Regions from separate parts of the Homo sapiens genome. Here all the other regions are reported to be linked to region 2. The links are microRNA targets in miRTarBase. Many come from high-throughput screens and were not tested one by one. Region 2 holds a microRNA gene; each other region holds the end of a gene's coding sequence.
What was found. Region 2 holds the annotated microRNA hsa-miR-383-3p (ACAGCACUGCCUGGUCAGA, at 1,648-1,666, shown strand). A microRNA usually pairs through its seed, bases 2 to 8, with sites in the 3' UTR of a target mRNA and lowers its output. Matches are read on the target gene's strand: a 7mer-m8 pairs with bases 2 to 8, a 7mer-A1 pairs with bases 2 to 7 and ends in A, and an 8mer does both.

Region 1 (3,000 bases), not on the chromosome of region 2:
GGAGCTGGGAAGACAGCCCCACTGGCCACTGGGTGTGCAAGCTCCAGCTTCTCCCTCACTCCTGTACCAAAGCTGGGGCAGTAGAGGGCCGGCACAGGGCAGATATGAGGGCTACCCTATAAGGTGGGCTACCCTGTAAGGCAGGCTGCCAAGAGTCTGGTTGGGTTGCTTCTCTCCACGTTGGCTTGGCCCAAGATAAGAGTGAGATCTGGACCAGTTCAGATGCCTTATGCTCCCCAATGCCCCAAATACAGGCCATGGCTCCTTGTGAAGCCTATAGACTGGGCCCCCTCTATTCTTTTGACCTACATGTTTCTGAGCCAATCTGGCCCCCAAAAGCCCTGCATGCCCCCTTTACTTCTTCCTTCCTCTGACAGGTGGATCTGTCTCTGGCTTGGCCATGCCAGGCATGTGGCTTTTGCTTTCTTCTCTCCTTCCAAGCACCAGAAAGTGCCCTCCAGAATGGGGTACTAAGCTGTAGACAGAGCAAAGGCAAGCTTGTGGAGGATGTCAACATGGGGAAGGCTCGAGCAACCAGGCAACCTGTGCCATGCCACAGAAACGAGGAGGAGGAGAAGGCCTACACAGTCACACCCCTATGACATTCCGGAGCTAGTCTTCAGCTGAGGCACAGATCCTCTGCTGGCAGCAACTCCAAGTTCTGGTGGAGGACAGACCAGGCCCCCAGGGGCTCCTCCCACAATCCCCTTCCAACTTCTCCTTTTGTAAAGAGGCCAAGGGGCACTGAGGCCTTGTGTATTTCCTCATCAGCTATTCCTACATGTAGCAGTTTGACGGTGGGCAGGGCCAATCCAGCCATTCAAGGAGCACCTTCCCTGGAGGGCCACCCTAAGGTGAGAGGCACTAAGAAAAGTTTGGCCCTGCCTTCAAAGAGGGCCAAAAACAAAGCTTACGCATCAAAAGGAGCTCAGGAGAGTAAGAGCACTTGGTGCCCTCCCCTCCTGCTCCCCAAGCCCTGGGGATTGATAGCCTCAATGCCCGCAGGCCTCTGCAGAAGGACGGTCCCTCCCAGGGTTGCTTCCTATAGGTCCACTTGCTAAAATTATGACCACTGAGGCACCGAAGCTCAGTGTAGGTCAAACACGGTCAAACTGGAAATACTGGAACTGGTCTAGGTCAACTGTGTTGCCTAGAGTGGGACAGGGGAAGGGAGGCTCATCAGACAAAATCACCAAATGAGCTTTTCTGTTCTTAAGCAAATCTGTTCCTAGTGGGAGTCAATGTGGAGTCAGCAATGCCCAGCCACTTCCTGCCTGCTTGAGGTCCGTGCATAACTGAGCTGAAGTCCTTCAACAAAAGCTCCTCCTTGTGGAGCACCTGAACCTCCACCCATGAGGACTTAATTCTTTGGCAGCCCCCTTTCAACCTAGACATGGGATTTGGGGGTAGACAGGATGAGGAGGACGTGATGTCCCCCACATTAAACAATTCAGCACTGAGTGTGGATACACTGAAGAAATCTGGCCCTAGGGAAACAACACTGGCCCTGTAAAACCAAGAAACAGATCTACAGAATCTTCCAGAAATGGGCCCTGATGCGAGGATTCTCCAAACTCAAAAACCAACCAACCAGCCAATTCCAGCTCATTCTTCCCTGAAGCTGCCTGAGAGAGGGAAAGAGGGAGGGAGGGGGGAGGGGGAGGGGTGGGGGGAGAGGGAAAGGGAGAGGGAACACATTTAAGGGGCACTCAAGATTAAAATGGTATCTATTATCAACATTTTCCTAAAACAGAGTGTATGATTCAAATCACAGTTTTCTGTGCTCACTTCTGATTGGGATATGCATCAGTTCTCAACTCTCACAGGCAGAACTTACACAGGGTCTGGCCTAGTACTGTATATATCTTGACCCTCTTCACTTTGGATTTGTCATTGCAATAGATCTCCAACCCTCTCAATGGAATCTAGCCCTTGGGCTGGGTGGTGCTCTCACCTCCCACCCCAGGCAGCATCCTGGAGGGAGTGGCTGGTTGGCTGTTTACTTTGAGTCATGGGACACCAGTGACCAGAATCTGGCTGGTTCTGTCTTGACCACGAGCTGTGAAATCCCTCGGCTCTGGGCTTGCCGCTGGTATAGAAACAAGGCCTCAGTCCCCCGTGGTAAGGGCTGTGCTGGAGACTAAATGGGACGCCAGCATAAGCCTGGAGGTCCCTGGCAGTGGAGAAATGAAACACAACCCAATCTCATTGCTTCGATGCCAAAAGAACTACTACTTGTTGTTCCCTTTCTCCTCAACCAGCTGTTGTTAAAGCACCGACAAGCAGAGTGAAAGAGCCGCTCACTGCAATCTCCCCATGTAAGGCCACTAGGAGCAGAGAGAGAGCCAAAGGGAAGGAGGAAAATCCAGCGCCCAGCACTACACCCCAGGCTCAAGGAGACATCGTAGGGGGAAGAGCTGGGAAAGGAAGAGTGGTAGAAGAAAGGGACAGAAAGGAGGAAAAAGAAATACACCAAACATCCTACTGCCCTCTCCCATGATTTTATCAAGAACTGGGTGTTCTCCAAGTCAAGTCACGACTTGCTTCCTCAGGGAGGAAAAAAAAAAAAAATAAGCACCTTCAGTCTATTTTCTTGGCTGGAAGCCGGAGCAAATCCAGCAGATATTTACACAAGGGCCCAGCCATGTATGAGAACAGGATGACCAGCTTCCCGTGGGTCATGGTCATGAGAGTCTGGTGTCCCGAGGCCCAGATGCGATACCAGGGGCCGTAGAATGGGTCTGAGATGGCCGGACACAGCATGTTGTTCAAATTCACTTCGGTGACCTGCAGGGACAAGGGAGGTAGAGTGAGCGTTCACCATCCTTAGGCTTTCTCTGGCTTCTGCCAGTTCAGCCATCTCTACCTAATGGGGGACTAGACAAGGAGGGATTGACCAATCCCCACCTGTTTATAAAGGGATTTCTTCTCTCCCCTCGGTTTTCTGAGTGAGTCAAGCTAGAGGCCTCTGGAGGTGATGGCGGAGGGCCGTCTAGTGGA
Region 2 (3,000 bases):
TGTACTCCAGTTGGGTGACAGAGCAAGACTCCGTCTCTAAATAAATAAATAAATAAATAAAATAATGGAGATGCCTAGGAAGTTGCATCAAAGTTAGATCTTGAGGGAGGTGGGAGAGCATACCAGATAAAGTCGGGAGCGGGATTTCCCAAGAGAGGCCATAGCATGGACCTCTGCATGATTGTTCAGGCCCCTGTGGACATGCTGACATATCTCTGTGAATAGTGGCAGTGCAGCCTTTGATGTCTAGGGTAGCAGAGATTAAAGAGGGCCACTCTCTGCCGGGTTTATATGCCCTGGGAGACTGATCCCAATTGACCTACTCTCTCCTTTCCTCTCTATGAAAATAAAATGATAATAGCAAACTAATTCCTGCTGGTATTCCTGAAATAATCCAACAAAAGTGAAAAAAGAAATCAGAAGGACCAGTAAATCCTTCTTCTCTCTACTGTTTAACACCAAACTATATTACTGTATGTATTCAAAATATCTTATATTTGCAATAATCATATCTACGATGACTATTGAAAAATAATGAAAACCACTGGCTTCCTATTATGAAAACAATATTACACAATGTGAAATTTATTAATTTTATTAATCTAAGAAGTGCCTTAATATTTAGTTGATAACTTATTGACAGTATTTATTGTAAAAATAAATGTGTATATTTTTATCTTTTCTTTCTGCTTTAGATATGTTGTGGAACAATGTTGAGTCTAAATAAACTACAAATTATATATTTTTGATATGTCTATGTATTATCTTATTCAATGAATACAAATTAACTTTTTGTTTTGTGAATTGCGAATGAAATAGTAAAGTGAGTCATTTTGCATATAATGTTGTTAACACCAACTCTGTGTCAAAAGCCCAACATTTACAAGTCAAAAGTTACTGCATTTAAGATGATTACTAAATAGTGAAGATGAGGTAACACAAAAATCAAACTAATAACAATAATGTATTTCAATTTACATTTTGTGACTCTGTGCAAGGAGATATTGTAGCTTTAGACAGAGTATATAAAATTAGAATATATATACAAAAGGATATATATATATATATATATATATATATATATATAATATAATCACATAGAAACTGATGTCGTTACAAAATGAATGACTTAGGAGTAGGCAAATTTCGACCTTTGATATAGGCCTTGAAAGATCCTTGAAAGGTGTGTATTTTGTATTGGCAAGGAGGAAGGAAGGCTTAGGATAAGCTGTAGTCATGTGAAAGCATTGGATATTGGGACTAAATTGGTCTTCTGGTTCATCTGAAGAAAGAACAGAGAAAGGAAAATTCCAACAGTAGTTAGAAAAGCCTTGTTTATTTTTCTCCCTTCCTCTCTCCTTTCCCAAGCGTTTCACTAGGAAAGAAAATAGCTCTTCTATGGTACCCATGTAATACTAATTTCTCAGCGTTGTCATTCTAGGAACTGCCAATGATTGATGACAATCTATTTAGATTCAGTTCTTTAAAGGACAAAGCAAACCACTTCAGTGACTGAATTTTTTTTTAACCTGCAATGTGTATTGTTTGATTATGTTTGCATAATTTATCAAGAGACTTCAGAATCTCCCCGTCACCTGCTCCTCAGATCAGAAGGTGATTGTGGCTTTGGGTGGATATTAATCAGCCACAGCACTGCCTGGTCAGAAAGAGCAAGTGTCCTAGCCTTTACCTCATGAGACCTTGGGTATCCATCCAGCGTAGGTCCCAAGGGAACTGCATTTGGTGGACTGGAGTGGCCAGCATGCTTCAGGTGAGATGAAAAGTGCCATGTTTAACCTGTGTTTGGAAGCTTGTCTTTCTCATAAAATACCTAGTTGTTTCCTCACATGAGCATTTTGATCATTACCTCCTCTTCCCCACTCTTTAACATTTTTATACCATAAAGAGAAAATAACTTGGGATTCCATGCAGACATTTGAAATTCATGGGCAAAATCTTCAAACTGCAAATAGTACAAGTTTTATATGCATGCTTTAATTTGACTTTCTTCAAATATGAATGCTGCTATAATGCACACATGCAAAGGCCGCTATTGGAATATACTTTCTATGTATCCTCAGAAGCAGAGCTGGCCTCTGGCTGGTAAGTGTGGCTGCCTCATCAGCAGTATATATCTGATCATCTCAACAGTGTTTTCCATTCCTAGTAAAGGAAAAGCCCCATAGAAATAGTAACATATGTGTTTAGGAGCTAACGCTTCAGGAGAGTTTAGACGAGGAGATTCTGGGAACAATACCACAGGAATCCAGGAAAGACTTTGATGCAGAGAAAGGCTATTACTCCATGAAACACTACAGATGGGAGGTGAGCCAAAGAAAATTTTTTGTACTTTGCAATGTTTCCTTAATATGGTCCTGCTCCAACATAATGTAATTATACAAGCTGTGGTTGCCAAAAACTAAATATGAACAAAAATGGAAAAGACAAGATGTTTGTAGGGGAGACTATAGGCATCTGGCGTGCAGGGAAAAAAGTCAATAAATTGTTCAACTGAGGTGAAAATTAATTCTAGAATATTTTCAGGCAATTGTTGGTAGGGTGTTTGTTACTTTGGGCTGGTGTGTACTCGATGGCAACTTTTGTTGAATTAATTTTTGATTTTGATTAGACTTTTACTCAATCACATATAATAAGTACAGCTTCCTTTCTTGAGTTACAGTTTACTATTTCCTTAATATTTAGAAGCATAAGAATATTCTGTAGCCATATATCAACTGAGATATCTTTGAATATTTTTTGTCCTATAAATTATTTACAAAGTATTATGACTGTAGAATACATTTTACCTTGATGAACTATTTCTACCTTTCAGATGGTTCTTGGACTTGAACATAAGGCAATATAGTACATGCTCCAAATATTTACAGAAATTATTTTGTATCACTGAAAAAATATTGCGCTTGAGATTTTGTGATTTTATTTCTGGAGCTGACTTGGCAGGAGAAGTCTTAAAGCATTGCCTCTTTAAAAAAATAATAA
Region 3 (3,000 bases), not on the chromosome of region 2:
AAGGCCAATGCACTTGATAATGTAATAAAGGAGAAGTCTGAAAATTAAAAACAAAAAACAAAAAACTGTTCTTAATGGTGTGAGTTAGAAAGAACGTTTTAAAAAAAATTTTTTTAGAAGTGTGAAACACCTTTGGAATTGTTAGATGCCAGCAGATCTGCTTTGAAATACAGCAATGTGTTTTGATACAAATTCAATATGCTGAAGAAACAGAAGAAAATTATGTCTAAATATACGTATTTGCCCTATAATTGCAAAGCATTACGGATAGCAGTTTACTGAACTGTAAATGACATCAACTTCTTTTCTCTCATAGGTGATCCTAAAACCTGGCAAAACAAGTGTCTTCCCGGAGATCCAAATTATCTCGTTGGAGCAAACTGTGTTTCTGTCCTTATTGACCACTTTTAACTCTTGAAATATAGGAACTTAAATAATGTGAAACTGGATTAAACTTAATCTAAATGGAACCACTCTATCAAGTATTATACCTTTTTTAGAGTTGATACTACAGTTTGTTAGTATGAGGCATTTGTTTGAACTGATAAAGATGAGTGAGCATGCCCCTGAACCATGGTCGGAAAACATGCTACACACTGCATGTTTGTGATTGACGGGACTGTTGGTATTGGCTAGAGGTTCAAAGATATTTTGCTTTGTGATTTTTGTAATTTTTTTATCGTCACTGCTTAACTTCACATATTGATTTCCGTTAAAATACCAGCCAGTAAATGGGGGTGCATTTGAGGTCTGTTCTTTCCAAAGTACACTGTTTCAAACTTTACTATGGCCCTGGCCTAGCATACGTACACATTTTATTTTATTATGCATGAAGTAATATGCACACATTTTTTAAATGCACCTGGAATATATAACCAGTGTTGTGGATTTAACAGAAATGTACAGCAAGGAGATTTACAACTGGGGGAGGGTGAAGTGAAGACAATGACTTACTGTACATGAAAACACATTTTTCTTAGGGAAGGATACAAAAGCATGTGAGACTGGTTCCATGGCCTCTTCAGATCTCTAACTTCACCATATTACCACAGACATACTAACCAGCAGAAATGCCTTACCCTCATGTTCTTAATTCTTAGCTCATTCTCCTTGTGTTACTAAGTTTTTATGGCTTTTGTGCATTATCTAGATACTGTATCATGACAAAGACTGAGTACGTTGTGCATTTGGTGGTTTCAGAAATGTGTTATCACCCAGAAGAAAATAGTGGTGTGATTTGGGGATATTTTTTTCTTTTCTTTTCTTTTCTTTTTTTTTTTTTTTGACAAGGGGCAGTGGTGGTTTTCTGTTCTTTCTGGCTATGCATTTGAAAATTTTGATGTTTTAAGGATGCTTGTACATAATGCGTGCATACCACTTTTGTTCTTGGTTTGTAAATTAACTTTTATAAACTTTACCTTTTTTATACATAAACAAGACCACGTTTCTAAAGGCTACCTTTGTATTCTCTCCTGTACCTCTTGAGCCTTGAACTTTGACCTCTGCAGCAATAAAGCAGCGTTTCTATGACACATGCAAGGTCATTTTTTTTAAGAAAAAGGATGCACAGAGTTGTTACATTTTTAAGTGCTGCATTTAAAAGATACAGTTACTCAGAATTCTCTAGTTTGATTAAATTCTTGCAAAGTATCCCTACTGTAATTTGTGATACAATGCTGTGCCCTAAAGTGTATTTTTTTACTAATAGACAATTTATTATGGCACATCAGCACGATTTCTGTTTAGATAATACACCACTACATTCTGTTAATCATTAGGTGTGACTGAATTTCTTTTGCCGTTATTAAAAATCTCAAATTTCTAAATCTCCAAAATAAAACTTTTTAAAATAAAGTGCTGGCTTGGTCTGTTTGCCCACTGTTTTCTAGTTTCATGCAGCTTTATAATCCTGTTTTAAAATCCTGCACACAAATCCCTATCACCCAGCGTCACCTACCACCTCGTCGTCTGGTGTTGCATGCAGAATTTCTCCCCTTGGCCAGCATGTACAGATGGGTGGGCAGTGCTCATCTGAAGGGCTCAGACTGAAGTGGGGCAGAAGGACCTGGAGACAGAGTGGGAGAAGGCAGCAGGCCGACTTCCCCCTGTGGGTAAACACACACCCCTGCGTGGAGAAACACCCCTGCATGGGGACACACGTGCGTTTGTGTGTGTGCGTGTAACCATTTGTATATGGTTTTATTCCCCAGATAAATAGCACGGGCATTGTTTAATGTCACCCACATTTGGGGGAAGAAAATGGGTTTAGTGAGCATAAATATTCCATTGTGGACATCCTACTTACTTAACTGCCACCCCTGTTGACATTTGGATTATTGCTATAGTGTTTCAGTAAACACCTTTGTGGACTGAATCCATCTATGTGGATTTTATTTTTTTCATCTTTGTTAAGGTATAATTTACATAGAGTAAGTTACTGTTTTTAAAATGTATAGTTCAAATTTTGACAAACACATACTGTTTATTTACCACGGTTAATACATACAACAGTTTCTTTATCTTCTCTAATCATTTGTACCCCTTTATACTCAACCCTTCTTCCAGCCCCTGGCAGGATGATCTCTTCTGTTTCTATAGTTGCCTTTTTGACAGTGTCATATAAATGGAATCATACAATATGTTGCCTTTGAGTCTGGCTTATTTCACTTAGCATGATGCATTTGAGATTCATGTATGATGTTGCAGGTTCTTTTTTATTGCCAGGTGGTATTCCATTGTGTGGCTGTACCAGAGCTTGTTTATCCATTCCCCAGTTAAGGAACTTCTGGGTTGTTTCCAGGTTTGGGAGATTATTAGTAAACTGCTATAAACATTTGCGTACAGGTTTTTGTGTAAACGTTACTTCATTTCGCTTGACTTCAGTTTGATGAAGTCTAGTTTAATCAGTTTGTTCTTTCATAGATTATGCTTTTGTCATATCTTCACTAAGATGTTCTATCCTAAGAGAAATCTTCACTTAGCCCAAAGTGTAAAGACTTC

Region 1: miRTarBase lists TMEM164 as a target of hsa-miR-383-3p. Seed matches in the 3' UTR shown: 7mer-m8 at 2,374-2,380 and 8mer at 1,451-1,458.
Region 3: miRTarBase lists TJP1 as a target of hsa-miR-383-3p. Seed matches in the 3' UTR shown: 7mer-m8 at 1,587-1,593.

The regions. Positions count from the first base shown.
Region 1 is chrX:110,173,032-110,176,031 of GRCh38, reverse strand. TMEM164 (transmembrane protein 164) reads right to left here. Exons shown (of 7, transcript NM_032227.4): 7 at 1-2,787. The coding sequence ends at 2,581. It overlaps LOC124905230, which reads right to left and starts at 259. Exons shown (of 2, transcript XM_047442708.1): 1 at 215-259; 2 at 1-116. The coding sequence starts at 259.
Region 2 is chr8:14,852,109-14,855,108 of GRCh38, reverse strand. It overlaps MIR383 (microRNA 383), which reads left to right and starts at 1,599; the gene lies at 1,599-1,671. All of the region lies in intron 1 of SGCZ (sarcoglycan zeta), which reads left to right.
Region 3 is chr15:29,699,006-29,702,005 of GRCh38, reverse strand. TJP1 (tight junction protein 1) reads left to right here. Exons shown (of 28, transcript NM_001330239.4): 28 at 317-1,854. The coding sequence ends at 411. Among named protein-coding and RNA genes, the nearest start is that of LCIIAR, 26 kb to the right of the region's middle.